7 linked regions of the Homo sapiens genome follow. The protein of the gene in region 1 purifies or fractionates together with the protein of each later gene. This does not show direct contact. Each region holds a gene or a part of one and is shown in the gene's direction. Other genes may lie near its edges. The genes, in order: ARHGAP12, ASAP2, DMBT1, WASF1, NHSL3, MAGEB10 and RAPH1.

Region 1 (4,384 bases):
ATGTCCAATGTTACAAAAGGGCTGTGCAGTTAACCAAGTGCAGTCTCAGTGTGTCAGCGCTCTTTCTTCTTGTTAACTCATTATTGTCGTTTTTCAGCCTCATAGTATGCATCCTGTGGCATCACATTAATTTTAAGGTATTGTGCTACTTTCAGAGAAGAAGTATAGTGCATTTCTGTTGAGGCCTCTAGGAAGCTGAACTTCATTGATTTAAAAATATATACTTACTGTTTAAGATTCTACATAGAATCTTATACTTTTTAAGAAGTCAAAAGTCATGGAATATGTACCATAATTTCCTACTGGACACCAGGCATCCATCTCTGGACTAGGATGTGTCTGTGCATGTAAACAGATGCAAGCGTTTCTATCTCCAGATCTTACTACAGAAAGGAGCATAGCAAAAGCCAGCAGCTTTAAGAAAAGCATTTTCTAATGTTGGCCCCTTATGAATTACATTGCTTAAATAGGCCGTTAGCTTTGTGACTTGGTACTTTGTTCAGTCTATTTTAACAAATCCACGTTTAACTGAGAACTTTTTGGCCTTCATATTAACTGAATGATTAGAAAATCAGTACTACTTTTCTGTATTTCTAATGAACTTTAGGCCTATTACTGACATTGTCAACAGGTAGCAATTTAACATAAAAAGTGATTATTTTTTATTCTATATTATAGATTCTTCATGCTCTCAACTTCCCCCAAATAGAATTATTTTCAAGAAATATACCTTTTGAATTTTTGTTACTATAACAGAAAAATCAAGACTAAAGGCAATGGAGGACATTTTCCATGTAGTCCCATTTGTAGCTTAGAGTACAAATAATTATGATGAAAGTTAGCTTAAAATACAAGTATAATAGTTATGATGGTTATATGTCTATATTTATATCTCTATATATTTGTGTGTATATCCAGTTTTCTTATTCAATGAAGATAGGGATTGTTTTGTTGTGTATTTTATGTATTTTTACTTTTTGGTGGTCATTTTACCTTCTAAAACTGATGGAGAATCAATAAAGATAAGTAGTTAATCATTTATGAAATAAAGAATATGTTAGAGTAAATTAGGGATGTCTTGGCAGATATACCATAGAAGGTACAGTTGTCATCTGTTTTTAGTGATAAAAATGAAATGTTTTGTTTGGTTTATAACTTTGAAATGGGGTCTGTGTTAATGTAATTCTTCACATCTTGTCCTTAAACCACATTAAAGTTAAAATAACTGAATTGTACTATGATCTTGACATATGAGGTTAATGTGTTTTGCATGCTAGCTGGAAAAACTTGTATCAAAAAAACTTTATTTTTACAAATGCTCATTACCTGTCTTTTTGTCTTAAGCCTTTAAAGTATCTAGCATAGATTCTTCAGAACAGAAAAAAACCAAGAAAAACTTAAAGAAGTTTCTTACACGACGCCCCACTTTGCAAGCTGTTCGTGAAAAAGGTTATATTAAAGGTTGGTAGGAGAAGTATTGTTGATAATAATGAATGTTGGCCTACGTCATAAATAAAATGTTTCAAATTAAAAACAAACATTTTCAAACAGTAAGAATATTATTCTTTATTCATGTATTCAAGTACAGTGATTAAAAGACATTAAGTAATTAAAATAGTTTTTTTGAAAGTTTATTTTAACTAAAGTAGTGGACAGACATAAATAACACACTAAACTTTTAGAAAGCCTGTTTCAGAGGAACTACATGGATGTGATGGGTGGCAGACTTTTAGAAATTGTGACAATGAAAAGTTTAGTTTTGAGATGCAAAGATCACAATAAATAAGAAATTTTGAATATCACTAACAATAGAAAGAAAAATGAACAAATAATTTTTACCCTTGGCTGTCATTTAAGGTAACTGAAAAATTAGCATAAGGTGTTTTTTTCTAACTAATTTATTTGCCTGTTATTTCATTTATAAGCACTATAATGGACTAACAATCTTTTTTTTATAGGAAAATATTCTTTAAAAAAATCACATTACTTGTGTATGTAGTTCTTACGAGCGTGTTTAATTCCAAAGGTAAAATTTTCTAATACCTGACTTAAAACAATGGCATTTATTTGTAAATAAAAATAAAAGTAAAGATAATATAGTCTATAATGTATATCTCTGTCTCTGATTATTATGAAATTTCTAACAAAGACCATCTATTTGTGAAGCATCTGCATTAAAACACGCAAGCCAGTTTTATTAAGAAGGTATTTAAGGCCAGGTGCAGTGGCTCACATCTGTAAACCCCCCACTTTGGGAGGCAGGAGGATTGCTTGAGTCCAGAAACTCAAGACCAGATTGGGTAACATAGAGAGACCCTCTCTCTACAAAGAATTAGTTGGGTGTGGTGGCACACACCTGTAGTCCTAGCTACTTAGGAGGCTGAGTGGGAGGATCGATTGAACACAGGAATTAGAGGCTGCAGTGCAGCTATGATTGCACCACTGTCCTCCAGCCTGGGTGACAGAGAAAGACTGTCTTAAAAAAAATAAAATAAAATAAAAAAGGTATTTAAGACTTCTAGGAAGAGACTAGCTGATTAATTCAAATTAGGTACTCTCCAATAAAGCATTTGAATTTGTATGATGAGTTCAGAGTCTTTAAAAACTTAAAAAAAAAAAAAAAAAGCCTGGCAAATAAGTGAATAGAAACTGTTGCTAATTTGTTCACCAGGCCTTTTCCCTGAGAAATATAAACTGTTGTCACTTTATGTCCTTATTCATCACTTCAAATTGTTTGTTTTCCTGAACATTTACCACTAATATGGAATTTCAAAACTGTTGGGTTGAAAGATCAATAGAAGAGTATTTGAAATGTATTTTGTGAAATCAAATGTTGGTACGTGATGGACGGACATATGCTTATTTTAATAGTTTTTAAAATAATCAAGTATTTACTAAGTGCCAGGCACAAGCCTAGGTGCTATGAATACCTGTTGGTGTTCAGGAACTACATGGTCCTTGGTCCTCTCCCTCATGAAACTTATACTCAAGTAGGAAGTAGACAAGATAATGTGAAATAGTAACAAATGCTGTGAATCTAACACAGTAATAAAATAGAATGTGTCTAGAACTGGGTTCTCTTAGGTAAGGATGGTCAGAGGGGTTATTAAAGTAGGTGACATTTTAGCTGAGACCAGGAGTGATAAGAAGGAGCCAAATTGGGTAGAAAATTGCTTTCTGCAAAAGCAGTAGAAAGTACAAAGAATTTTCAGGCAAGAGTGAGTAAGGGTTTGTATGAGTTTGGAAACGAATTGTTTGAAGTGAAAAGAAGTAGGCAAGATGCATATTGCATAAGGCATAGGGCCATGTTAAACAATATTTGGTTACGCTGGATGTTTCTGTTGCACTCTGAATGGTTAGCCATTTCATGAACTGAATTTCAGCAAGGTGATTGACTTTTTAAAAATAAATCTTTTTCAGATCAGGTATTTGGATCCAATCTCGCTAATCTGTGTCAGAGAGAGAATGGCACAGTACCAAAGTTTGTGAAGTTATGTATTGAACATGTTGAAGAACATGGTAAGAGAAGGATTTTGATTTTTTTTTTTAACATTAAGCAAACCAGCTTCTTGTTTTGCCATCAAAATTCCTAGAATTTTTATGATTTTGAGTGATGCAAACAGAAGTTCCTTATAGTCCTAAGATGTTAAGAAAATAATTTTGTTTACAAATACTTACATGTTTACACCTGTTTCAAATTAAGATCTCTCCAGGCATCTGCTGAATGTTTGGTACTCACAGTTAATTAAGTATATGCTATTCTTTGATGCCATTTCATTTAAGCATTTGCTTAAAATGAAGAAGGTAGTGATTGTGAAATTGAGCTTGTTTTTAAGAAATAATTTGACAATGTATAAGATCCGAGGAGATTGTGTTTACTTACTAAGTTTCTTCTGTCCTAAAAATCAGATGACATTTTAAATGGTTAAGTCAACCACAAATGTCTCACGAGATAAAAATTTTTATGTCATTTTCTGTAAAATAGGACAAACTAATTTCTATTGTGATTAATTTAAACATAGCTATAATATTTATACTAGTTTTATATACATTAGTATATTGTAATCACATTAACTTATCTCTGTATATCATGAAAGAGATTTTGTACAATTAAAACACATAATTCAATTTGTAATTTCTGCCAGTTACAGATCTCTTGTCCCACTGACTCTTCTTGTCAACATGGCAATAGGGATACTACACTATTGTCTTAATTTGAAGCTAAATGAATAGTACATTCAATAATGTGCTTTAGTAAATTTGTACATTATTATCATTTAATGAATACCTGAAATTTCGGGGCTTAATTGTATGAATTTCAGATGATTCTGTTTCACATATAAAAGAAAATAATAAATTATAGCAAATTATGTATTGTTTTTAT
Region 2 (4,384 bases), on another chromosome or scaffold:
GCTGAAGCGGGAGGATCACTTGACCCCAGGAGTTCCGAGGCTGCGGTGAACTGATTGCCGCACTGCACTCGAGCTTGGGTAATAGGGCAGGACCCTGACTCAAAAAACAAACACAAAGGCCAGGCACAGTGGCTCACACCCGTAATCCTAGCACTTTGGGAGGCCGAGGTGGGCAGATCACCTGAGGTCAGGAGTTTGAGACCAGCCTGGCCCACATGGTGAAACCCCGTCTCTACTGAAAATACAAAAAATTTGCTGTGCGTGGTGGTGCACACCTGTAATTCCAGCTACTCGGGAGGCTGAGGCAGGAGAATTGCTTGAACCCGGGTGGCAGAGGTTGCAGTGAGCCGAGATTGTGCCACTGCACTCTAACCCGGGTGACAGTGCAAGACTCCATCTCAAAAAAAAAAAAAAAAAATTCACAAAGCCTAAAAAGTTTACTATCTGCCTCTTTAAAGAAAAAGTCTGCTCACTGCTGTCTCAGAGGATCAGGCCTTCCCTGCGAGTGTTCTGTAGTTAGGGATGACTGCCGGCCAGGGGGTCAGCCAGGTCAGTGTAGTGATGTCTGCAGAGACATTTACACCCAGAGACACAGATGGAAAACAAATGGCTAGACTGGTCAAATGGGAGGGGTCTTTGTTTTATGGAATAAAACAAAGTTCCTTTTCAGTTCCTTCAGCGTATGAGCAAAACCCATGTGATGTTTTCTCTCCCTTCATTCTGGGACTGCAAGCATTGAGGCCAGACAGGGTTCATTCCGAGCAGCGAAGGGAGTGTCGACAGACGGGAGCGTACAGTGGAAAGAATCCCATCCTTGCCTTCCCCTTCCCTTCCTCCCTGGTCTTCCTCTTCTGCTTCTCCAGCCCCCGTCCTGTGCCTGGCTTTATGCTAGGTCCAGGAGATCCACCGGGGAGCTGAAGCCACTGGCACTGGTCCTTAGCTCTGGAGTTGACGGATCTTGTGTCACACCTTTTGCAGATGAAAATGCTGACTCTCCAGAACCCATTTATCCAGGGCTGCCAGGTGGCAGGTTCGAGATGAGGGACCCCTCTCTGCCAGCCCTGAGAACTACTTCCTCACTCATGTGTTTCTACCTTGTGGCTTTGGGGTGTGCTGGCCCAGAGGTTCATGGATGGGGCTTGAGCCCGTGGTCAGCCACATTGGTTCCCAGAAGCAGGGACGGCAGAGGCATGGACAGCGCTGACCCAGAGTGCTCGGACCCGTCCTGGCAAAGCCATCTGGGCCTGAGGTTAAGGTTCAGCCCTGCCCTTTCATGTGATGGGACCAAGGCAGGGAAGGGGCTGAGCAGACTCGGGGCGGGGCCAGTGGCCAGTGCCCAGCATCACTCCAGACCCTGGCCATCGGTGGCAGGCTCACGTGGACAGAGTGCTCTGGAAAAGCCCTGGTTTTAGGATCAGAAACGTTGAATTTAGCACTTTCCTCAGGGCCTCTCATTCTTCCTTTTCCCATAAAAAAGAGACAGCTAAGTGACAGTGGAGGAAACCACCTCACACACTCTGAGCTTGAACTCAGAAGGTTCTCTGATAAAAGGGGATGAGAAAGGGGCAGGTGCCCTCCGGTAGCAGTAAATCTACTTTTTCCCTGTCTTTGTAGGGCTGACAAGTCCACCCCACTGACCAACAAAGGCCAACCGAGAGGACCTGGTAATTATTTAATTTGGGACTGAGTTTGTTTCTGCTTGGTCCATGGGGGCAATGTGGGGGATGTTTCCTGCCAGGTGGTCAGGACTGAGGGAGGGCCCAGCTGTCTGCCATTCCACAGCCCTCCTGCCCCCTCCCCTCCTGCCCCCTCCCCTCCTGCCCCCTCCCCTCCTGCCCCCTTCCCCTCCTGCCCTCTTCCTCTCCTTCCTTCCCTCCTTCCTTCCTTCCTCCCCCACTCCTGCCTTCCTCTGCTCCCTTCTCCTCCTCTCCCCCTCCCTCCCCCATCTCATGCCTTCCTCCCCCGCCACCTGCCTTCCTCCACCCCTCCCTTCCCCTCCCCTCCTCTCACCCTCCTCCCTGCCTTCCTCCTCCCTCCTCCCTCCTGCCATCCTCCCTCCTCCCTCGGCCTCTGAGACCCCTGCTCCTGAGCAGCTCAGTCCTGGGGCCCCTCACCTGTCCCCTCCTGCTGACATGGCAGGCTCACTGGGGGACACTCGCTGCCACACAAGCTCTCCAAGGTCTGCATCCAAGTCAGAAGGTTCCCTTTCCCCTCAACAGATCGGAACACCTGGGGAAACCTGCTTTCAGACACACCCTGTGGCTTGTACATTGTTTACATCTCATGGCTGTGATTGATGGGATGTCTTAAGCTGCTTCATTTTTGCCCTACAGTGGATCTCTCTGCAACGGAAGCTCTGGGTCCTCTGTCCAATGCTATGGTCCTGCAGCCCCCTGCACCCATGCCTAGGAAGTCGCAGGCAGTAAGTGACGAGCCCCCTTTCCTGCCTCTCTGCTCTAGCCAGGGGGGTGCAGGTGGTTTCACAAGGGCTCAGGGGAAGCAAGTCTTCCCCTCTTCCCCTGGCTGGGGCAGGGCGGGGCTCTTCTTGGTACCTGACTGCTTGGATCTGGGCAGCTGGTGGGTTTGGCCCTCCTGCCGCAGCTCCACAATGGGCCCACTCAGAGTACCCTGCCCCGGCCGCTTCGTTTCCCAGCCCTTGGCCCCTTCTCTCTGCTTGGTGGGGAGCTCTTCCCTTTTCTCTCCCTGGCTCCTGAGCTGCACTGACCTGCCCCACCTTGGCATCTGCAGGCTTCTCAGGCCTAGGTACGGGACTCCTGAGACCGGGGAAGGCAGGGTGCTTGAGCTCTCTGCCCTGAGAGCTGAGGCCTGCAGCCACACTAACCGTTGTTCCCTCTCCTGACCCAGACCAAGTTGAAGCCTAAGCGGGTGAAAGCGCTCTATAACTGTGTGGCTGACAACCCCGATGAGCTCACCTTCTCCGAGGGGGATGTGATCATCGTGGACGGGGAGGAGGACCAGGAGTGGTGGGTGAGTCAAGGGTGGGCCTGGGAGGTTCCTGGGGGCTGAGCCACGTCCCTGCCCACCTGGCTGGAGAGACGGGCTTGCAGGTGAGGTTTTCTCAGCCTGAGCAGTCCAGATGTAGTTCCTGGTGCCTCCGCCCCTTAGCATCCTCAGGAGCTGCTTCCTCCATGGACACCCCCTTCTGAGCAGGCCTGATTATTCCCCAGGGTGGCTTCCTCCCCTGTTAGGGTGCAGTTTCCACAGCACTCATGAGGGCCTGAAATGACACTCCTTCATTTTGAGGTCTTGAGTTTCTAGGTCATCACCCCCCATTGCTGGATTAGTGGAATCGGGTGTCTGGAGAGAGCTGACCTAGAGCGCAGAGCCCCAGGCCTGAGTCTGGTCCTGAAACAAGCTGTGGCCGCCCAGGCGTCCAGCAGGGTGTGGGAGCAAGATGAGTGCCGGCCACCTAAGAATTCAGACTTGGCCACTCAGGGGCTGGTGGCTTGGGGCAGGTTGCTTTTATCTTTAAGCATTAGTGGGATCATCTGTGACAGGGAGGTCACACACACACAGTCTGGTGCAGGTGATCTTGTGAGCACCCACTAAGCGGCAGCTGCAGACAGTGAGGGCGGTGGATGAACCGGCTTGAATGGGGCGTGGACAGAAAGCCCCAGGCTGAGCCCACCACACAGTAGACGCAAGTGGCACAGCTCCGCAACTGAGCTCAGAGCAGACAGTTCAGCTGGGAACTCACAGGATTTAGGGGAACTTCTTTGTCGAGTGCGAGGAGTTTGGACACTGTCTTTAGTCACTGTCCCTCCCAGAACTCCCACTAGTGTTTAAACTGCATGTCTTCAGCCTCCAGAGGCGCTGTGAGCTCTCAGGGCCAGGCAGCACTGCCTTCATTTGGCAGAGCTGGGTTCACCGGTCTTTCCTGTGGCCTCGTTTGCCCTTAATGGATTGAAAGTGTCTGTGGCCTGGGCGCGGTGGCTCACGCCCATAATCCCAGCACTTTGGGAGGCCGAGGCAGGCGGAACACTTGAGGTCAGGAGTTCGAGACCAGCCTGGCCAACATGGTTCTCTACTAAAAATACAAAAAATTAGCTAGGTGTGGTGGCAGGCACCTGTAATCCCAGCTACTCGGGAACCAGCCAGCTCCCACAGTTGCCCACAACCCACCATCCGGAAGGGGCGCCAACCTGACCACAGGCTTAGCCATGTGGAAAATACCTGCTCATTTCCAAAACTGGAAAATAGAGGCATAAAGAAGAAAACAGAAGTTGCCCATAACCACAGCACCCCCCACCCACTCCACAAAAAGCCCACCATTCATATTTTGGCTGTTTTTAGCCTTTTATTTGCCTACATCATTTACACTCTTGAGATCATATTTGGATATAATTTATGTATCTACCCAAGA
Region 3 (4,384 bases), about 91 Mb from region 1:
TGAATCAAAGCTTCTAATGTTGGGCCACCTAGAACCAGGCCCAAGAGAGGGGACTTGTTTACAGGGAAAGTTAAGTCTTGTTATAAAGTGCAGAAGATGAAACTGGATGATACTTACACAGATGATTCCTTGTCACAAAATACCTGAAGACCTGGTACAATGGAGATGTCCCCTCTCTCCTCTCTAGGACCCTCTTCAAATTGTGGTGGCTTCTTATTCTATGCCAGTGGGACATTCTCCAGCCCATCCTACCCTGCATACTACCCCAACAATGCTAAGTGTGTTTGGGAAATAGAAGTGAATTCTGGTTATCGCATAAACCTGGGCTTCAGTAATCTGAAGTAAGTAATGCCTGGTCATCTGGTGAGGGGTGAGTTCCTCTGCAGCACACCCACTGGTTTAGACTGTGTCCTGGGCTGGGATGCTTTTCACTCTCATGTGCCATGGACAAGCTTTTGGTGGCTTTGATTCCTACCATAAAGCATCAGGGAACACTGATGTCCTTTGACTTAATTGAGGAAGAGCTAGAAGAAAAACCTGTATTCAATGGCATCCCTCGTAAAGTGCAAACTATTTATAAAATGGAGGGGCAATAGGAATTTCAATGTTGACTTGAATACATTTTCTCCATACAGATTGGAGGCACACCATAACTGCAGTTTTGATTATGTTGAAATCTTTGATGGATCATTGAATAGCAGTCTCCTGCTGGGGAAAATCTGTAATGATACCAGGCAAATATTTACATCTTCTTACAACCGAATGACCATTCACTTTCGAAGTGACATCAGTTTCCAAAACACTGGCTTTTTGGCTTGGTATAACTCCTTCCCAAGCGGTAAGTGCACACTAGACCATGCCTATGAGGCTTGGTGGATTTACCCAGCTGCCTCTTTGGGGGCACCATGGTTCCCCAAGGAAATCAAAGAAGGGCCTCAGCGATGCACGGCCCATTCTCTTTCTCTTGGCACTGACTGTGTGGGCAGGCCCTTGGGAAGGCAGCAAAGGGTGCAGACTGGGGGTTCCACCTGGCCTTGGGTCTGCCACCAACTCTCCAGGGGACCTGGTGACTCTCCTTCAGAGCCACCCCTCTCCGTCTGGAGGTGAGGGGATCTGAGCTTGGCGATGTCTAGAGCCCCTTTCAGCTCTGCATGGAGCGGTCCAGTACCTCCACCCCAGCTTTTCCACATTTCTATTTGGCGACTTTAGAGGTGGGAAAAGGCCTGTGGGATGCTTGGCCTTTGAGGTTTGTTGTGGGACATTTGTTGTGGGACATGGCCATGATCTCTCAGTTAATGTGTCTTTCAGATGCCACCTTGAGGTTGGTCAATTTAAATTCATCCTATGGTCTATGTGCCGGGCGTGTAGAAATTTACCATGGTGGCACCTGGGGGACAGTTTGTGATGACTCCTGGACCATTCAGGAAGCTGAGGTGGTCTGCAGACAGCTAGGGTGTGGACGTGCAGTTTCAGCCCTTGGAAATGCATATTTTGGCTCTGGCTCTGGCCCCATCACCCTGGACGATGTAGAGTGCTCAGGGACGGAATCCACTCTCTGGCAGTGCCGGAACCGAGGCTGGTTCTCCCACAACTGTAATCATCGTGAAGATGCTGGTGTCATCTGCTCAGGTATGGCCCAATGCCATGGAAGGCCCATTTCACCTGTAACTTGCTATAAAGCAAGAGCTTAAGGCCAGTGGCTGATGGTGTCTGTGGCCCAGGCAGGAGCTGGTCATTGTGTCCTCGTGGCCTGCGCACTCCAGAAGAGCATGCAGGGGGCTGCTTTATCTTTGGCCAGTTTCTGGACCCAGGGCCATTATGCTGAACACTCATCTGACTAAAGGACCTCCAGCAATGATTTTACTTCTTTATGCTTCAGTTTCCTTGACTGTTGAGTCGGGGTGGCTATGATAGTACTTGCTACTGGTGACAATTGGGATGGTTTTAGAACAATCATGGTCAAGGAGAGAGTGATGGGTGTTATGACCTCAGCTGTAATCCTGATGACCACAAGTATGACGGGACTTAGGGAGCATCTGGGGAAGCTGGGAAGGCTTCTCAATAGCAATTGCTGGGTGGACCTGGGGACCCTCGCCGAGGGGGGTCAGGTTATGGGCCATGTAAGTGTATCTCTGTCTCATTCCGGCCCCTCCTCCAAGCCACATGTCTGTGACCTATGCTTTTTTTCTATTCCTTTTTCAGGAAACCATCTATCGACACCTGGTAAGTCCCTCCGATTTCCATTCCACTTCCCTGGTCTCCAGGTCTCTCCATTACTGCTGCCTAGACTGTGCAGGGCATGTTGCTCACTCTCCAAGGAGTTCATCTGTGGTACCATCCTCTACAGCCCCTGTCCCCTCCCCTGCCGGCCACCAGGATAGTGTGCCCCTCTCTGTGCTTCAGTGGCCTGACCCACCTAAGATTAGGATCTCCAGTCAGTCCCGAGGTGAGGCCCGCCACCTGTCAGATTTGACTGTCCTCACAGACACCAGACCCTGACCAGTGTTGGCCAAATGGGGCCCACTGCATCGCAGAGCTCCTCCCTGCCTGCCCCTGAGCTGCTCTGAGTGTTCCCAGCATGGCCCTGGCACCTCTCCAACACCCCCCACTGCCCCGCCCCCTGCTTGCTTTGTCATCCCCTCCTGGCCTCCCATAGCAGCAGCTTCAGGCCTGTGCCCTCCCATCCATTCTCCACTGTGCAGCCCCTTCAAGAGATTCCTCAGGGTCTTCTGGTGATGACCCCGCTCCTCAGCACAGCATGACTGCCAGGGCTCCCCATGATCTGCTCCCTATGCTTGGTGCCCTCTCCCCATCCTCTGCCTGCTCCATCTACACGGAGGTTCCCAAATCTATTCCACCCAGGTGCAGTTGCACCTGCTGTTCCTCTGCCTGGGACACCCCGTTTCTACCTCTTTGCCTGCCCCCTAATTACTGCCCTTTTTTCCCCACTCCATCTGGGGCAGGGGCCAGACTTCCAGGCTCCTCTCCTTCCCCAGGCTTTGGTCAATCTCATCCTTTTCCCAGTGTGCTGGGATTCGCTCTCCTCCAGACCTCCCCAAAGGCAAGTGAGCTCCCCAAGGGCAAGGCCTGTGTCCAGCTCCTCCCTGTGGACTCAGGCTTGGCACAGCATCTGCACAGCTCATGAGCAGTCGACAGCTGTGTCAGGGATGCCAGAAAACTGATCCTGATCTTTTCTTTTTGTCAACAGCTCCTTTTCTCAACATCACCCGTCCAAACAGTAAGTTCTGAGCTCCCTGACAAGTCTGTGGCAGAGTGGCCTGGAAATTCCCCTTCCCATTTCCTCAGTGACAATGGGGCTGGGGAGGAGATGGCTTCCCCCAAAGTGGTCTCCCTGCAAGAGTGCCCTGCCAGCCCTCAGTGGACGGTCCAGATCTAGGCCACCTCTTGCTCTTACTTGGTTTCTGTCTTGGGAATTATTTTATAAAATTTTAAAGTAATTTAAATTTAAAGTAGTCCGCAGGTAGACTGTGCAGTGTGCTCTGGGGGTCACCGACATTCCCACTTTTTGTCCTGACAGCAGATTATTCCTGCGGAGGCTTCCTATCCCAACCATCAGGGGACTTTTCCAGCCCATTCTATCCCGGGAACTATCCAAACAATGCCAAGTGTGTGTGGGACATTGAGGTGCAAAACAACTACCGTGTGACTGTGATCTTCAGAGATGTCCAGTAAGTGTGCGCCCAGAAGAATGCCTTGGGGCCCCACAGACCTTTCAAGAGGGAATAAATGGTGCTTAAGTGTGCGCCCAGAAGAATGCCTTGGGGCCCCACAGACCTTTCAAGAGGGAATAAATGGTGCTTAGAAAGCCAGGAGAGAAGTTTGCTGAGAGACATTTTTGACCTAGCCCAGAGGCATCCCGTGGAGAGTTGGGGAGGGGGCACGAGAGCCTTGGAGTGGACAAAAGCTCTGGTTTCAAGTCCTAGGTCTTTCACCAATTTGCTGTGTGACCACAGGAAGTCACTCAACTTTCCTGAGCCTCAGTCAAAAGAGGGGAATAAAATACCTGCTTTCCTCACCTCACTGTTTACTGGGAAGGTCACGAGAAACAGAGAGGAGAGAGAGGGAGAGAGATGTGAAAATATTTACAAAATGTTGTCCAGTGGAAAAGATGGTTGTTAAGTAGTAATGATAGACTTAGGGGCAATAATAGCACTAATAATCCTATTAACAACCACACTGGCCAGGTATGCTGCCTCAGGGTTGTAATCCCAACACTTTGGGAGGCCGAGGCAGGAGGATCACCTGAATGCAGGAGTTCAAGACCAGCCTGAGCAATATAGGGAGACCCCCCATCTCTACAAAAAAGTACAAAAATTAGCTGGGTGTGGTGGCCTGCACCTGTAGTCCCAGCTACTAAGGAGGC
Region 4 (4,384 bases), on another chromosome or scaffold:
GAATTGTATTTGTGGTACTTGTCAACCAGCAAACTGAGTCCTCTCATAGATCAAGTAATTTGCTCAAGGTCACATGGCTAATAGAAATGGAGGTGGAATTTGAGCACAGATATGTGTGATTTCAAAGTCCCATTTTTTTCCTACTCCCTTATGCTGCAAAGGTACCATTTCTTAAACTAAAGGTCCTAAAGAAATTCTAAGTAGGTGGGTTTTGGGTGTGATGACATCTGTTGGATGATGATGACAGCAAAGTTTTTTTGTTTTTTTGTTTTTTTAATTTGGTGTGCTTGATAGTAGTTAGTCCAGCATGTAGCCATTCTTTATTCCTAACCTAGCCAGGTCTACTCCAATAAAGTTACATTGACTAACTTATTTGAAAAGAAGAAAAGCTTATGTGTCAGGGCATGGAATAACTTGTTTGATTCCTTTACCAAAAAAGTCAAGTGTGTTATGTTTTCACCTTATGCTACAAAAGTAAGTTTGTTTTCTAGTTGTTTTAATAGGGACATCTTGCTAAATTTGTTAAATTTGCTAAATTTTTATAACATGCATGTGCTACAGGTTATGCCAGAGAATTGTGAAAGGGTTAAACGAAAAGGGAGGAACAGTGAAGCATTTTATATTTTAGTCGAGGATGAAGACTAGCACTCACTTCTTAAAATTATTTTTATAGATTTAGAGGGTACACGTACAGTTTAGTTACATGGATATATTGCATAGTGGCAAAGCCTGGCTTTTTAGTATAGTGTACATTGTACCCATTAAGTAATTTCTCACCCCTCACCCACCATCTATCCTTCCACTCTTCAGAGTCTCCATTATCTATTATTCCACTCTTTATGTCCATGTATACAAATTATTTAGCTCCCACTTATAAATGAGAAAATATGGTATTTGACTTTCTGTTTCTGAGTTAGTTCACTTAGGATAATGGCCTCTGGTTCCATCCATGTTGCTGCAAAAGAGATTATTTCATTCTTTTTAATGGCTGAGTAGTATTTCATTGTTTGCATTTAAATTTTCTTTAATTATCCATTGATGGACACTTAGGTTGATTCCATATCTTTGCTATTTTGAATAGTGGCACTGATTTTTTTTTAAACCAAAATAAAAGCCCTGTGTGGTACATCATAATACACAACTACAAATTTATCAATTTTGTTATTTTCAAGGAATCTTCATTTAGTTTCATTGTTTTTTTCTCTTGATTTCCTGTTTTCAATTTCATAGATTTCTGCCTTAATTATTCCATGGTGTATATGTGCCACATTTGCTTAATCCAGTCTGTCATTGATGGACATTTGGGTTGGTTCCAAGTCTTTGCTATTGTGAATGGTGTCGCAATAAACATACGTGTGCATTTGTCTTTATAGTAGCATGATTTGTAATCCTTTGGGTATATACCCAGTAATGGGATTGCTGAGTCAAATGGTAATTCTAGTTCTAGATCCTTGAGGAATCGCCACACTGTCTTCCACAATGGTTGAACTAATTTACACTCCCACCAACAGTGTAAAAGCGTTCCTATTTCTCCACATTCTCTCCAGCATCTGTTGTTTCCTGACTTTTTAATGATTGTCATTCTAACTGGCGTGAGATGATATCTCATTGTGGTTTTGATTTGCATTTCTTTAGTGACCAGTGGTGATGAGCATTTTTTCATGTGTCTGTTGGCTGCATAGACGTCTTCTTTTGAGAAGTGTCTGTTCATATCCTTTGGCCACTTTTTGATGGAGTTGTTTGTTTTTTTCTTGTAAATTTGTTTGAGTTCTTTGTAGATTCTGAATATTAGCCCTTTGTCAGAAGGGTAGATTGCAAAAATTTTCTCCCATTCTGTAGGTTGCCTGTTCGCTCTGATGGTAGTTTCTTTTGCAGTGCAGAAGCTCTTTAGTTTAATTAGATCCCATTTGTCTTATTTTGGCTTTTGTTGCCATTGCTTTTGGTGTATTAGTCATGAAGTCCTTGCCCATGCCCGTGTCCTGAATGGTATTGCCTAGGTTTTCTTCTAGGGTTTTTATGGTTTTATAGATCCTTCTACTTTTCTAATACAGACTTCATGATATTTTCAACTTAAAATAGGTTTATTGGGATACAACCCCGTTATAAACTGCGGACCGTCTGTATATATACTTGGTGCCATAAATTTCCCTCCAAGCACTGCTTTTGATGTATCCCACACATTTTGATAAATTGAATTTTCATTTTCACTTAATACAAAGTATTAAAAAATTTCTCTTGAGACTTTGAACCATGTGTTATTTAGAAGTGTGATGTTTAATCTCCAAATGTTTTGAGATTTTCCCATCTATCTTTCTGAGATTGCTTTCTGGTTTAATTGCATTGTGGTCTGAGAGCATATACTGTATTAGTTCTGTTCTTTTAAATTTTTTCAGGTGTGTTTTATGGCCCAGAATATAGTCTGTCTCAGTGAATGACTTATGTGAGCTTGAGAATAACATGTATTCTGCTGTTGTTGGTTGAAGTACTGTATAAATATCAGTTAGATCCAGTTGATTGATGGTATTTAGTTCAACTGTATTGTTACTGATTTTTTGCCTGTCAGTTAATTACCGATAGAAGGATGTTGATATCTCTAGCTGTGATCATGAGTTCATGTTTCCCCTTGTAGTTTTATCAGTTTTTGCTTCACATTTTGATGCTCTGTTAGGTGCATATACATTAAGAATCATTAGGTCTTGGAGAATTTGCCCCTTTATCGTAATGCAATGCCTATCTTTATCCCTGTTAATTTCCCTCGCTCAGAAACCTACTTTGTCTCAAATTGATACAGCTACTTCAGATTTGTTTTGACTCGTGTTAGCATGGTATATCTTTCTCCATTTCTTTACTTTTAATCTATTTCTACATTTAAAGTGGGTTTCTTGTATACAATATATAGTTAGGTCTTTTTTTTTTAATCTACTCTGTCTCTTATCTTTTAATTGGCATATTTAGACCATTCACATTTAAAGTGATTATTGACATAATTGTATTAAAATCTACTGTATTTGCAACTTTTTTTATTCATTGCACTTGTTCTTTGTTTCATTAAAAAGAAAAAGTTGGCTGGGCTGGTGGCTCACACCTGTAATCCCAACACTTTAGGAGGCTGAGTCAGGCCAATCACTTGAGCCCAGAAGTTTGACACCAGCCTGGGCAACACAGTGAAACCTTGTCTCTACAAAAAAATACAGAAATTAGCCAGGTGTGGTCACATGCACCTGTAGTCCCAGCTACTTGGGAGGCTGAGGTAGTAGGATCACTTGAGCCTGGGAGGCGGAGTTTGCAGTGAGCCAAGATTGCACCACTATACTCCGGTCTGAGTGATGGAAGGAACCTCTGTTTCACCCCCTCCACCCCCAAAAAATGTCCTCTCTTTTTCTGCTCTGACTTTAATTGAGCACTTTGTATGGTTTCCTTTTCTCTCCTCTCTTAGCATATCAATTATACTTCTTTCTCTTTAAAATGTTTTGTAAGTGGTTGTCCTAGTTTGCCTCTCTTTTTGTATGATTACCGAGGAGAAGTCCAATCTAATTTTTATCCTTGTCCCTCTATAGGTAAAGTGGTTTCTCTCTGTCTTTCAAAATTTTTCTTTGTCTTTGGTTTTCTGCAGTTTGAACATCACATGCCTAGGTGTAGATTTTCTGGTATTTATCGTGGTTGATGATCTCTGAGCTTCATGGATTTGCTGTTTGGTTTCTTAATTTTGGAAACATTTTGAGCACCTGTATATGCTAGGCATTGTACTAAATATCTTACGTATTTGATTTAATCCTCACAACAACCCTGTGAAGAAGTATGATTCTCATTATTTGTGGTGGAAACTAAGTTTTAAGTATAGACCACTACAGAATTTTTTTACAATAGTCACTAAAATTTAACTGCCTTGGGCTTACCCCTGACTTAAGCTTCCTCTAGATGTAATGAAAAAATGGGATTATTTTGATTTACTTGTTAGGTCGCAATACTGGAGGTGAGTGTTGGGGACTGATTTCAGAGTTCAAGTCATGTGCAGTGTATCAGATTTGTGTACCATCAAAGGAGTTGAATGAAAATGGCTGTATTGTGTCCTTTTGATGAGATGCAACTGTTTTACCAGCAATTTGCATACATTTGAAAGTTGACTGAACTGGTTAATGGAGAATCCAGTACTTTGCTTTAATTTAAAGATGATCTCAAATCCTAAGTGATTTGGTGCTGTTACTAGAAATAGAGAAGCCCAAAGAATAAGTTTCCTTTTTGGGGAGAGTGGGGAATGATGGATAATGAATTTGATTTTGGATATTTTGAATTTGAGTTAGTGAGATGTCCCTGTGGAGCTGTCTGGCAGACTGATAGCACAGGAGTATATATTGTCAGGACTGTTAGGGTTGATTGTTTAAGT
Region 5 (4,384 bases), on another chromosome or scaffold:
ATTGAGGCTCAGGGACAGTGAGTGACTGATTTGACCAAACGGATTTAAACTCAAATCACCTGCCTCAAAAATCGGGACTGTTTTCATGACTCTCCCAAGGACATAGAGCAGCAGGTAAGGCTTGAAGATCTTCTTGTTCAACTCACTTTACAGATGGGAAATGGCCCAGAGAGAGAAGTGAGGGAACTTGATAGAGTGGGGAGAGTATCAGAATCAGGCCAATGAGAGTTTAAATCCTGGCCCAGCTACTAGCAAGCCCCATGATGTAGGATGAGCAACTTCTCAGTGGGCTCCCTGATTCCACCACTGTCTTGTGGGGAAGAAAGGGGGAATCCTCTGGCTGGACATTGCCTTGATGGGCTGTGACCTTTCTGTCTCACCAAGATTCTCACAAGAGAGCATATGAAAATTATATTAAAGGCTGGGCGTGGTGGCTCATGCCTGTAATCCTAGTATTTTGGGAGACCGAGGCGGGCAGATTGCCTGAGCTCAGGAGTTCGAGACCAGCCTGGGCAACACGGTGAAACCCCGTCTCTACTAAAATACAAAAAATTTGCCAGACAAGGTGGCGTGCACCTGTAGTCCCAGCTACCCGGAAGGCTGAGGCAAGAGAATTGCTTGAACTCGGGAGGCGGAGGTTGCAGTTAGCCAAGATTGCACCGCTGCACTCCAGCCTGGGCAACAGAGCGAGACTCAGAAAAAAAAAAAAGAAAAAAAAAAGAAAATTATATTAAAGAGAAGTAACCATAGAAATGCAAGGGGTTGCTATGCCTGTGTTTATAAGTTTAGTCACCTGAGCTCTAACGACCCAGTCTGGAAGGAATGGGCTCTGGGCCTAAGAACAACTTTGCTTGACTGGGCGTGGTGGCTCACACCTGTAATCCCAGCACTTTGGGAGTTTGAGGTGGGTGGGTCATGAGGTCGCGAGTTTAAGACCAGCCTGACCAACATGGTGAAACCCTGTCTCTACTAAAAATACAAAAATTAGCTGGGCGTGGTGGCGCGTGCCTGTAATCCCAGCTACTCAGGAGGCTGAGGCAGGAGAATCGCTTGAACCCGGGAGGTGGAGGTTGCAGTGAGGCGAGATTGCACCACTGTACTCCAGCCTGGGCGACAGAGCGAGACTAGGTCTCAAAAAAAAAAAAAAAAAAAAATGGACAACTCTGCTTCCCTGGTCTGCCCCTCTCAAGCTACAAGATGCTGGCAGGTTATTCACCCCTCCAAGCCTCAGTATCCTTATCTGTAAAATAGGGATAATAAATCCTAGCTTTATAGGGGCCTTTCCAGGATCAAATGAGCTAACAGACATGCAAGTGCGTTGTGAACTGTGGAGCATGGTGCAGCTGGCAGCAGGTTTCTGCTGTTGTTATGCTGCTGAGGACTTGAGCATTAGTTAAGTTCACCCTGATCCATGTTTGGAAAACAGCCCATGATGATGATGATTATTGAGGGGGATTCACAGAGGATAGAGTCTCACCTTTGTCCCACAGGAGGACTCAGACATAAGAAAAAGTTAAAAAAACAGGCCAGGCACGGTGGCTCACGCCTGTAATCCCAGCACTTTGGGAGGCTGAGGCGGGCGGATCACAAGGTCAGGAGATTGAGACCATCCTGGCTAACATGGTGAAACCCTGTCTCTACTAAAAAATACAAAAAATTAGCCAGGTGTGGTGTCGGGCGCCTGTAGTCCCAGCTACTTGGGAGGCTGAGGCAGGAGAATGGAGTGAACCCGGGAGGCGGAGCTTGCAATGAGCCGAGATCGCGTCACTGCACTCTAGCCTGGGCGACAGAGCGAGACTCCAGCTCAAAAAAAAAAAAAAAAACAAAAAAGAACAAGTTAAAAAAAACAAAAACAAACAGGAATCCATATCTTCCAGAAATATCACCTGGACTCTAGACAAGTGTGTGGGTAGGAAGTGTTTCTGGGACAGATGCCAGGATTGGAGCCCAGCAGATAATCAGGGGAGGCTTTCTGGAGGAGGCGAGCGCCTATGGAAGGAGGGCAGGGTCCTGGCTAATCTGAATGGGAAGAGAAGTAACAGGAAGGCTGCTATGTGCTATATATACCCTGGCCAGGCATTTTCATCAAAGTCTTCCTATGTCCTTACAGCAACCTGGGAGGTGGACAGTTACCACCATTTGTAGGTGAGAAAAAAGGGGTGAGAGTAAGTAGCCCGAGGTCACTCAGCTTCATTTATTTGAAGAGGACATATTCTTTACTCTGGAGTGTAAGGCACTGTTCAAGGTGATGTGAATGCCAGAGGACCAGACAGGCAAGGTCCCCATCTATGTGGAAGTGAGGTTCACAGCATCACAATGACGGAGCCACTCAGTCTGCCTCCAGAGGCCACACTCTACAAAGAAAATTATATGATGATGGCTGTGTTTCTGACTCTGGAGGCAGGTAACCTCTCTAGAGTTTTAGACAAAACCAGTTTTGGGGAAAGGGGTATGTAGTCCTCCTGAGGGTTTCTCTTGTGCAGTGGGCAGCGGCTGAGGGGTGGGAGTAGGCATGGCTCTGATACTGAGAATTTGAGAGCTACCCTGCCAGGCCTAGCTGACTTAGCCCCATGTTAACTCCAGTCAGTTCACTGTGGCCTCTCCAAGTTCCCTCTGGCCACTCAGGGAGGACTGTCCTTTCATGGTGTGGAGTTGTGGAGAGAACCCTGAGTTTGAGTTCTGCTCTGTTGTATGACCTTGGGTAAGTCCTGCCCCTCTTTGGACCAGACATGCCCTGTCTTGACAAAGATGGTTTTTTTTTTGTTTTGTTTTGTTTTTTGAGACAGAGTCTCACTCTGTCGCCCAGGCTGGCGTGCAGTGGCGAGATCTCAGGTCACTGCAACCTCTGCCTCCCAGGTTCAAGCGATTCTTCTGCTTCAGCCTGGGACTACAGGTGAGTGCCACCGTGCCTGGCTAATTTTTGTATTTTTAGTAGAGATGGGGTTTCACCATATTGGCCAGGCTGGTCTCGAACTCCTGACCTCATGATCCGCCCGCCTTGGCATCCCAAAGTGCTGGGATTACAGGCGTGAGCTACCGCGACTGGCCGACAAAGATGGGGTTTAATGGCCTCTGAGACTCTTGCTAGTTCTAGGATTCTGTGAGTTTGAGAATGGGCTGAGGGAGCAAGCCTGTAGGGGCTGGGGGCTAGGCATGGAGATGGGAGCTGTGTCCAGGAAAGGAGAGCTGACCTCCAGCCAGCCAGATAAGACACTGAGACCCAGTGGCCTGGATGTCATAGGAAGGGGAGTAAGGTGGCTGGGCGTGGTGGCTCACACCTGTAATCCCAGCACTTTGGGAGGCTGAGACAGGTGGATCACTTGAGGTCAGGAGTTCAAAACCAGCCTGGCCAACATGGTGAAACCCCGTCTCTACTAAAAATACAAAAATCAAAAATTATGGCCGGACACAGTGGCTCACGCCTGTAATCCCAGTGCTTTCGGGGGCCAAGGCGGGAGGGGATCACCTGAGGTCAGGAGTTTGAGACTAGCCTGGCCAACATGGCGAAACCCCATCTCTACTAAAAATGCAAAAATTAGCTGGGCATGGTGGCATGCATCTGTAATCCCAGGCTACTCGGGAGGCTGAGGCAGGAGAATAGCTTGAACCCAGGAGGCAGAGGTTGCAGTGAGCTGTGATCACGCCATTGCACTTCAGCCTGGGCAACAAGAACAAAAAGCTCCGTCTCAAAACAAAAAACAAAAATTAGCCAGGCGTAGTGGCAGGCGCCTGTAGTCCCAGGTACTTGGGAGGCTGAGGCAGGAGAATCACTTGAACCCAGGAGGCGGAGGCTGCAGTGAACTGAGACCACGCCACTGTACTCCAGCCTGGGCGACGGGAGTTCAACTGGGCAACAGTTTCATTCAAAACTCAAAAAAAAAGGAAGGTGGGTAAGGAGAGTCCATTATGAACAATGTCATTTCTCTCTGCTGAGGAAGGGGCCTAGATAGTTCCAAAGCAGTCAGAGTCAAGTCTCTGGGGTCGTGGGCGCCTTGCCCTTCTGAGGTCAGGATGGTGTCTGTTTGCCCGTCAGTCAACACTCCCATGTGTTTTCCCCTTCTGTGTCAGTTCCTGTGCTGCTTCTCCTGCCTGGAATGTGCTCCCCTTCACTTTGCTATCCAGTGAACTCCTATTCAGCCCTCAGGGCCTGGTGTCAGTGTCATCTCTGTGATACTCCCAGGGGAAATTATTGTCCCCAGACCCTAGAGCAAGGTGCTTAAGAGAGTTGGGGTTGGGCAGTATATGCTTTTCCAGCCACTTTCTTCTTGGGTAAAGGGCACCTCAGTGTCCTTACCTGGGGCCTGGACCAATGTAATAGGGGCGGAGTTCCCTCTGCTATGGGATACCTCCAATAGGGGAGTGGTTTCCCAGAGGAGTTTGGGGT
Region 6 (3,500 bases), on another chromosome or scaffold:
CCTCCCTCCAACTGCATACTCTGGGATATCAAGTGGAAGAGGGCCTTTCTCTGATTGGTATAGGCCTCAAGTCCTCAGAGGGGAAGGTATGAGGCTGTCAAGGTGAGGAGTCATTAGGAGGAACCTGAATTTCCAGAAGTAAAAGAGGATTCATAGAGCCCTAAGAGTGCTGTCTTTCCTGATAGGGGTCCCTGGGGAAGATACATCTGAGGCCTCCCTAATATCTTTATCAGGAATGTCAGGGATGTGAAGGCCTTGCTTGGAGGGGATAGGTTTCAGGTAAGCAAAAGGAGGGCAATCAGACCCTCCAAGAAGCAAAAGTAAAGACTGAGGACTGAAAACTAATTACCTCAAGATAAAGAGGGTCTCACCGATCTCTGCATTGCTGCCATTCCACAATGTCCCCCTGCAAATGTGGTCACATGAGATTCCCCCTCAATTTCTTGTCTGGGGAGTCAAGGATATGAGCGCTTTGGAATGAGGGAGTCAGCATCAAAACAGTTCAGCAGTGAGATAACAGGTCCTGCCAGAAGTCAAGGTGATGGCCCTGAATGTGAATTGAAAGAAACATCGTCTACCCCAGAAAAAAAGGAAGCTCCATAGAGTCTGGACCTGCCAGTCACTGTATCAGTCCCAGTAAGATGCAGGTAATACTGGCAGGCTTCAGCAAAGGTACAGTCTAGTTACTTCCACTGATTCCTCAGGGGAAAGGCCCTTCAGAGAAGAGTAGCCTCATAGGATCCTTGAACAGTGTTCTCAAAGAAACCTACAGAAGCAACTTCCATAAAGTCAAGGTGATATCTTCCTGCTGGAGGATCACACCTTCTTTCCTTGAGGTCACTTCATCACCTGCCATCTGTCTCACACTACTACTTACCTCTGAGCAGAGTCATAATGCCTCGGGGTCAGAAAAGTAAGCCCCGTGCCCGTGAGAAACGCCGCCAGGCTCGAGAAGAGCCCAAGGACGTGGAAGGTGCTCAAGTCACTGTAGCAGAGGAAGGAGAGTCCCTCACTTCATCTCCTCATTTCAAAGATAGTCCTGAGAGGTCATCTGCTGTCGAAACACCCAGCAATGAGCAAGAGCCTGGGATAGCTCTAGCCATCACCACTGCTGCAGCTGTTTCATGCACAGCATCTAATGAAGGCATCGACAGCCAAGTTGAGGAAAGGTCAAATGCCTCACAGGCCCAGGCTACCACTGGGCAGTGGCCCAGAGGCCCTATAGATAAGAAGATTGCTATGTTGGTGCATTACCTGCTGTACAAATGTCAAATGCAAGAGCCCATTACAAAGGCAGATATGCTGAAAAATGTAATCCAGACGTAAAAGAGCCTCTTCCCTGAGATCCTGAGGAGAGCTTCTGATCACCTGGAGTTGGTCTTTGGCCTTGACGTGAGAGAAGTGGATCCCAACAAGAGCATCTATGTCCTTGTCAACAAACTAGAATTAGGCCATGACACAAGAGTGAATCCTAACAGAAGTTTGCCCAAGAATGGCCTGCTGATGACCATCCTGAGTGCGATCTTCAGCCAGGGGAATTGTGCCCCTGAGGAGGAAGTCTGGAAGGTGCTAAATATGATGGGGGTATACGAGGGACAGGAGCACGTCATCTATGGAGAGCCCAGGAACCTCCTCACCAAAGATTTAGTGCAAGAGCAGTACCTGGAGTATTGGGAAGTGCCCAACAGCAGTCCTCCAAGCTATGAATTCCTGTGGCGTCCACGAGCCTATGCTGAAACCAGCAAGATGAAAGTCCTAGAGTTTTTGGCCAAGATCCATGGTACAGTCCCCAGTGCCTTCCCATCCCATTATGAAGAGGCTTTGAAAGATGTGGAAGAGAGATCCCAAGCCAGAATTGCAGCCAGGGCCCGTACTGCCACCATGGCCAGTGCACGTTCCAAGGCCACGTCCAGCAGCCTTGCCTGCTCCAAGTGAAGGCTGAGGAAAATGCTTTACTGTGTTTTTGAAGAGGACAGTCAGTGTTTCACTAGTGGAGGGTTGGCTGTGTCTCGTTATAACATAGTACATAACATGTTCTGGGTAACTTGGATATTTAAACGTTGTTCCTTTTAATAGAAGGTTAAAGTAGCTTAAGAATCCAAGATTATAAGTGATAGTAAGTCATACATTTATTGATGTTTGTGAGGTTTTAGAGTAGAGTTTTACTATTTTATAGAAAAAAATGGGAAAATTTCCATCTTATTTAGTGATCTCCAATGAGATAACATAGTAGTGGATTAGCCATTTCCTTGGAAATATTTTTTTAAAAAAGCAGTAAAATAGTTGGGATGAAGAAATAGAGGTAAAATGTAAAAGATGATAAATGCTTTCATTCCGTTATGTTTAGTCTGTTCTGTAAAATTAAGAGATAGATACTTAGATATGATTAGTTTATTCAACAATGTAGGAGAAGGAACATCATAATAAAACTGACTTCTTGCACACTGGCTCACTTATTTCTCAAACATTACTTGGGCATCTGTTCTTTGGAGGGAAGGCGCCATGCTGGTACTGGGAATGTCAGGATAAACAAGACCCAAGGGCACGCACTGAATTGTAGAGTCTAAGAGCAGCTGTCATGTAAGGAAGATGGTGAGATATACCCTAAGAAGTAAAGGATGAGTAAGAGAAGGTGGGAAGATCCAGATCAGAGCAGTCAAGTGAAAATGTCCTGAGGCAAGTGGGTTTGGGGCCTTAGGAAACTGCAAACCCTTCAGTGTCAGTCAATTTTGTTAGTCTGGATAGTGGGTTGGTTGAGGCTGTGGGAGTACAGAGCAGGGGCCAGATCCTCAAAAAGACTAATGCCTAGAATGAAGAAGTGCTTTTAGCAGTTATTTTGAGGTAATAGATAAACCAGAAATAATTGTAAGATGGGAATGGAAGGTGTCTTGCATCCTTTTCCAGTGTCATTTTTCCAGTGCAGTTGGGCACAGTCCACAAACTATGTTTTATGCACATCAGCTCCAGGGACCTTCTGAGAATCAAGGGTGACCTGACATGAATGTGCTCAAAAGCCATTGTGCTGGCATTATTTGCTCTGGCCTGGGAGAAACAAGAGCCCACTAAACCCACTTAATTAAAAGGGCTTTTAAAAAAACTTGTACTTTAAGTTCCTGGATACATGTGCAGAATGTGCAGGTTTGTTATATAGGTATGCATGGGCCATGGTGGTTTGCTGCACCTATTGACCCATCATCTAGGCTCCCTCCCCCTGCCCCTCACACCCCAACAGGACCCGGTGTGTGTTGTTCCTAAAAGGGCATTTTTATTAGGTTGTCTTTAGTATCATTTGGCAAACTCAAGTGAGGGCTAGATTTTTGATGCGAGTGAAAGAAATGAAAATAGGGGTGGTTTGGATGGAAGGATAGTTGAAGGGATGGAAGGAATTAGTCTTTGACATAAATTATAGGAGTCTTGAATCCAACTGGGGAAGACTACCCCACACCCGCAATAAATAAGAAATCCTCAAATTTGCAAAGTAAATAACTGAGTTTTACTTG
Region 7 (4,384 bases), on another chromosome or scaffold:
TGAGTTGGATTAAGATGCGTGAGGGACAAGTTATAAACTAATCATTAAGGATCTTCTAATACCGTATGCATGTCTTTCTGTCTGTAAAATGTGCTCATTATAAAAGTTCATACAGTATAGGGGCAAATTGAAGTAAAACGTGAAAAGTTCCTCTCTCCCAGCAAGCGCACTTCAAATGGTATCTAGTGGTATCCATGGGTATCACTGTGAATACTGCAAAGATACCAGTGCTCAATGGTATAATGTTTAATATAAGAGTTTAATGTAAGGTTTGGTGAGTAAACCAGGACTATAGCAGGGAAAGGAGTTAAAAAGCCTTATCTAGCTAGCCTGTTCTTTTGCCTCACCTAGGAGTATAGAAAGGTGGTTTAACAAACCCGGAACTTGCTTCCATTTGCTTTTTTCCTAGGTCTAGTCTGTTCTGATTCAAATAAAGTAAACTGAGGCAAGCTTAATATATCCTGAACTCATGTATCAAATTGTCTTTAAGTGCAAATACAGTTTTAAAAATATTTTAGTTTTTCATGCATGGCGTTAAATAGTTCTATGAGATATGTTACGGAAAACTATCCTCTACTCACATACACATCATATTCTGCTTCCAGAGGTAAGCAATTTTTGCTCATTTAGCTGATTCTTAGGGACTTTACCTCTTTATCATTAAGTCTACATACACATTGCCATTTCTTGATTTTCTTTTTAGTGGTATGTATTACCTATTGACTTCTCACTCTACTCCAGAAGATGGAGGGTATAGCTGTCTATATACAGCTTCTTCTCACTTCTCCCTTCCTGTTTTTCCATTCTCCAAATATATTTTGATTGAGCTCATATTCAGTGTTTATATTAAAATGACTATATACTTGAAATTTACTGCTAACCTCCATATACTCTTGTGACTACATCCCCTTTCTGGAATATCATTTTACTTTTACTGGAATGAATATATGTTTAAAAATATTTAATTTTCTATATGGTGATCACTGTTTCAACTTCAGACTTTCTCCCAGTTGATTAAATCTCTCTGGTTCAAGCCAAATTAGCGTTCCATTAATTGCATCTTCTTAAAATTCTATTTATTTCTTTTCTTTCTTTTTTTTTTTTTTGTAGTCTTCAGGATTATCCTTAGGTTTTTTTTCCTAGGCTGGTGAGCTTCTCTGGAGAAGATTCTTCCAGTCTTCTATGCTGGCTGCCAGTGTTTTAGTAGCCCATTTGGGAAAGAAGGGTTGGAACATGAGGATGGTCCCCATTGTTCCAGTCTATGAACTTTCATCAAATCCTTCTAGGTCAGGGTTTCTCAGCTATCAGCACTATTGACATTTGGGCTAGATAGTTTTGTGAGTGGCTGTCCCATGCACTGTAGGATGTTTAGCAGCATCCCTGGCCTGTACACACTAGATGTCAGTAGTACACATTTACCTTCTTCAGTTGTGACAACTAAAAACGTCCGTAGACATTGTTACATGTTGCTTGTAGGACAAAATCCACCCCCAATTGAGAATCACCACTGCTCTAGGTAGAGAGGGTTAACAGTAGGCCTGAGTCCTTTTCTTCGTGGAAAATGACCTTGGGTTTTCCTTCTCCTGGCATTCTTTTCCTGGACACATACTGGATTAAGAATTAAATATAGAATATCTCCAGGTAATATTGTTTATTGTGAAACTGACCCCTGTTGGTGAGTGTATATGGACCAGGAAGACTGTCCATGAATGAATAAATTAGCCTATGAAAAGACATAGACCTTGACTTCGTGGTGTGCAGTGTAACTCTTTTTTTTTTTTTTTTTTTTGAGACAGAGTCTCACTCTGTTGTCCAGGCTGTAATGCAGTGGCGCAATCTCAGCTCACTGCAACCTCCGCCTCCCAGGTTCACATGGTTCTCATGCCTCAGCCTCCCGAGTAGCAGGGATTACAAGCACATGCCACCACGCCTGGCTAATTTTTGTATTTCTTTTTTTTAGTGGAGACAGGGTTTCGCCATGTTGGCCAGGCTGGTCTCGAACTCCTGACCTCAAGTGATCCACCTGCCTCGGCCTCCCAAAGTGCTGGGATTACACTGTGGGAGCCACTGCACCTGGCCAGCAGTGTAACTCTTATAAATGAGCATGAACGTGTTCTTTAAGGGGCCCTGGAACTTAACCTCATTGGCTGTTAAAAGGTACTGCTGGTTCCCATGGAGCATGAAGTTTCCCTAAGCCAGGGTGTTTTCTGCACTTACCATGTGGTCTCTTTCCCTTACAATGAGCTATTTATGGGCCCAAAAAGGGCCTGTGGTGAGCTGTATGGACTCCCTCAGAAGATGGCATGTCTCTTTTTATTTATTCAGAACTGAGTGAATCTGGCTTCAAGCTATGGTCTGTTGGGTCTTGTCAGCGAATGTTAATCTGTACCTGAGACCACTGCTGGTGGGTGAGTGAGTAAAAGAGGGAATCTGAGAATTAGCTGCTTTCTTAAATGTGTTTTCAACCATTCTTCCTGCTTTTAGTCGCACCATCACCTGTCTACTCTTGCTTCTGAGGACTTCTGAGGTTACACGATATAAATTGAGTGCTCCTCTGCTTTTCTCCAGTGCTGGCCCAGCATTCAGCTTCTCTTGGATTTGCTAAATTGGTTACCACTCAGCCATATGCTTTTTTTCCACATCTTCCCACCCCCATTTTAATCCCTGTAAAACAATGCTTCACAACTTGGGCTACTTTGTCCTGCTGGGTATATGCAACATTTTTGGTTGTCCATCAAGGGCGTGTGCTACTACTGGCATCTAGTGGGTAGAGGCCAGAGGTGCTGCTAAACATCCTACAGTGCACAGGACAGCCCACATGAAGGATAATTATCTGGCCCAAAATAGAGCCAAGGTTGAGAAACCACATTTTAAATCGTGTGGCACCTGTTAGTCACGATCAGCAAGGTGGCAGTTATAGTACGTTGTATGAAGTCCTTCTGTTGAAAGTTTCTAATAAAGATCAAGAAAGTACCAGCATCAAATCTTCTTAGATTTAAGGAAATATAGGTATCTTTGGCCAGTCCCTCTCTCCTGAACTCCAGGTGCATATATTCCATCTCTAATCAATATCTCTATTTGGATGTCTAATTGTGTATTATATTTCTCCAGAGAGATAGAACCAATAGGATATGAGTGGGGATTTATTATGGAAATTAGCCCACACCATTATGAAGGCTGAGAAGTCATGTGACAGGCTGTCTGCAAGCTGGAGACCCTAGGATGGTGGTAGTGTGACTTAGTCCAAGTCAAAAAGCCTCGGAACCAGGAAAGCCCATGGTATAATTATCAGTCCTAGGCTGAAGGCCTGGGTACCCAAGGGAGGCTGCTGGTATAAGGCCTGCAGTACAAAGACTGGAGAGCCTGGAGTTCTGATATCCAAGAGTAGGAGCAGAGTGTCCCACCTCTAGGAAGGATAGGGAGGAAATCACCTTTTCTCTGCCTTTTTTGTTCTATCTGGGGCCCTCAGTCAATTGGATAGTGCCTACCCACAATGAGGATGGATCTTCCCCACTCAGTCCTGGTTCACACACCATCTCCTCTGGAAACACTCTCACAGACATACCCAGATGCTTTACCAGTTCTCTAGGTATTCCTTAATCCAATGAAGTTGATACCTAAAATTAACCATCATAAATAGATTGCTCAAATTTAACTGGTCTAAACCTAAAGTCCTGCTCTTTCTCTTCAAACTTATTTCTCCCACTGTCTTCTCTATCTCAAATAATGGATATTCCATCCGTCTAGTTCATCAAGCAAACTCCTTGGAGTCTTTATCTACTTATTTTCTTTCTACCTCCCTTTCAATCCAGCAGCAAATTCTGTTGGCCTTATCTTCAGAATATGTCTAGAATGTGATCACTTCTCACCGCCTTCACTGCCACCAAGCCAATATCATCTTGATTTAGATTTTTGAATAGGCTTCCTTCTGGTCTTTCTGCATTCACCTTTCTCCCTTAACAGTCTATCATCCACACTGCAGCCAGAGTGATCCTTTTGAAAGATAAGTCAGATCATCTCTTTTCAAACCTAAAGGCTTTGCATCTCATGGTATAGCCCAAACCCCTATAATGCCTATAAAGCCTTGCCTGATCTGCTTTCCCATTACCACCTATTTTTCTTCCTTCTGTCCCTTACCCCACTAGCCATACTGTCCCATACTTGTTCTCAGCCAGTAGCCAGAGCCTGCCTCTTAGCCTTTGCACTTATTCAACCCTGCCCAGACGCCTTTCCCCAGTCTTCTGTGTAACATTCTCCTAGCTACCTTCTGGAATTTGCTCAAATGTCACTTTCTTATTGAGGCGTTCTTTGATTATGCTATTTAAAAATGGAGCTCCCCTTACTCTGCCATATTATTACCTTTTTTTTGTTTTGTTTTGTTTTG

The links.
Region 2: the proteins of ARHGAP12 (region 1) and ASAP2 purify together in Homo sapiens (affinity purification with mass spectrometry; 2 studies listed by BioGRID and IntAct, with this or other methods). This does not show direct contact.
Region 3: the proteins of ARHGAP12 (region 1) and DMBT1 purify together in Homo sapiens (affinity purification with mass spectrometry; one large-scale study listed by BioGRID and IntAct). This does not show direct contact.
Region 4: the proteins of ARHGAP12 (region 1) and WASF1 purify together in Homo sapiens (affinity purification with mass spectrometry; one large-scale study listed by BioGRID and IntAct). This does not show direct contact.
Region 5: the proteins of ARHGAP12 (region 1) and NHSL3 purify together in Homo sapiens (affinity purification with mass spectrometry; one large-scale study listed by BioGRID and IntAct). This does not show direct contact.
Region 6: the proteins of ARHGAP12 (region 1) and MAGEB10 purify together in Homo sapiens (affinity purification with mass spectrometry; one large-scale study listed by BioGRID and IntAct). This does not show direct contact.
Region 7: the proteins of ARHGAP12 (region 1) and RAPH1 purify together in Homo sapiens (affinity purification with mass spectrometry; one large-scale study listed by BioGRID and IntAct). This does not show direct contact.

Annotation. Positions count from the first base shown.
Region 1 is NC_000010.11:31,809,784-31,814,167, reverse strand, and holds part of ARHGAP12 (rho GTPase-activating protein 12), read left to right. Parts: intron 1-1,344; coding exon 1,345-1,461; intron 1,462-3,420; coding exon 3,421-3,519; intron 3,520-4,384. UniProt on the Homo sapiens protein: GTPase activator for the Rho-type GTPases by converting them to an inactive GDP-bound state.
Region 2 is NC_000002.12:9,398,409-9,402,792, forward strand, and holds part of ASAP2 (arf-GAP with SH3 domain, ANK repeat and PH domain-containing protein 2), read left to right. Parts: intron 1-1,614; coding exon 1,615-1,664; intron 1,665-2,333; coding exon 2,334-2,422; intron 2,423-2,865; coding exon 2,866-2,988; intron 2,989-4,384. UniProt on the Homo sapiens protein: Activates the small GTPases ARF1, ARF5 and ARF6. Regulates the formation of post-Golgi vesicles and modulates constitutive secretion. Modulates phagocytosis mediated by Fc gamma receptor and ARF6. Modulates PXN recruitment to focal contacts and cell migration.
Region 3 is NC_000010.11:122,629,653-122,634,036, forward strand, and holds part of DMBT1 (scavenger receptor cysteine-rich domain-containing protein DMBT1 isoform e precursor), read left to right. Parts: intron 1-187; coding exon 188-341; intron 342-635; coding exon 636-838; intron 839-1,308; coding exon 1,309-1,629; intron 1,630-2,202; coding exon 2,203-2,223; intron 2,224-3,208; coding exon 3,209-3,238; intron 3,239-3,538; coding exon 3,539-3,689; intron 3,690-4,384.
Region 4 is NC_000006.12:110,169,203-110,173,586, reverse strand, and holds part of WASF1 (actin-binding protein WASF1), read left to right. Parts: intron 1-4,384.
Region 5 is NC_000001.11:32,744,425-32,748,808, forward strand, and holds part of NHSL3 (NHS-like protein 3), read left to right. Parts: intron 1-4,384. UniProt on the Homo sapiens protein: Able to directly activate the TNF-NFkappaB signaling pathway.
Region 6 is NC_000023.11:27,810,990-27,814,489, forward strand, and holds part of MAGEB10 (melanoma-associated antigen B10), read left to right. Parts: intron 1-3,500.
Region 7 is NC_000002.12:203,482,816-203,487,199, reverse strand, and holds part of RAPH1 (ras-associated and pleckstrin homology domains-containing protein 1), read left to right. Parts: intron 1-4,384. UniProt on the Homo sapiens protein: Mediator of localized membrane signals. Implicated in the regulation of lamellipodial dynamics. Negatively regulates cell adhesion.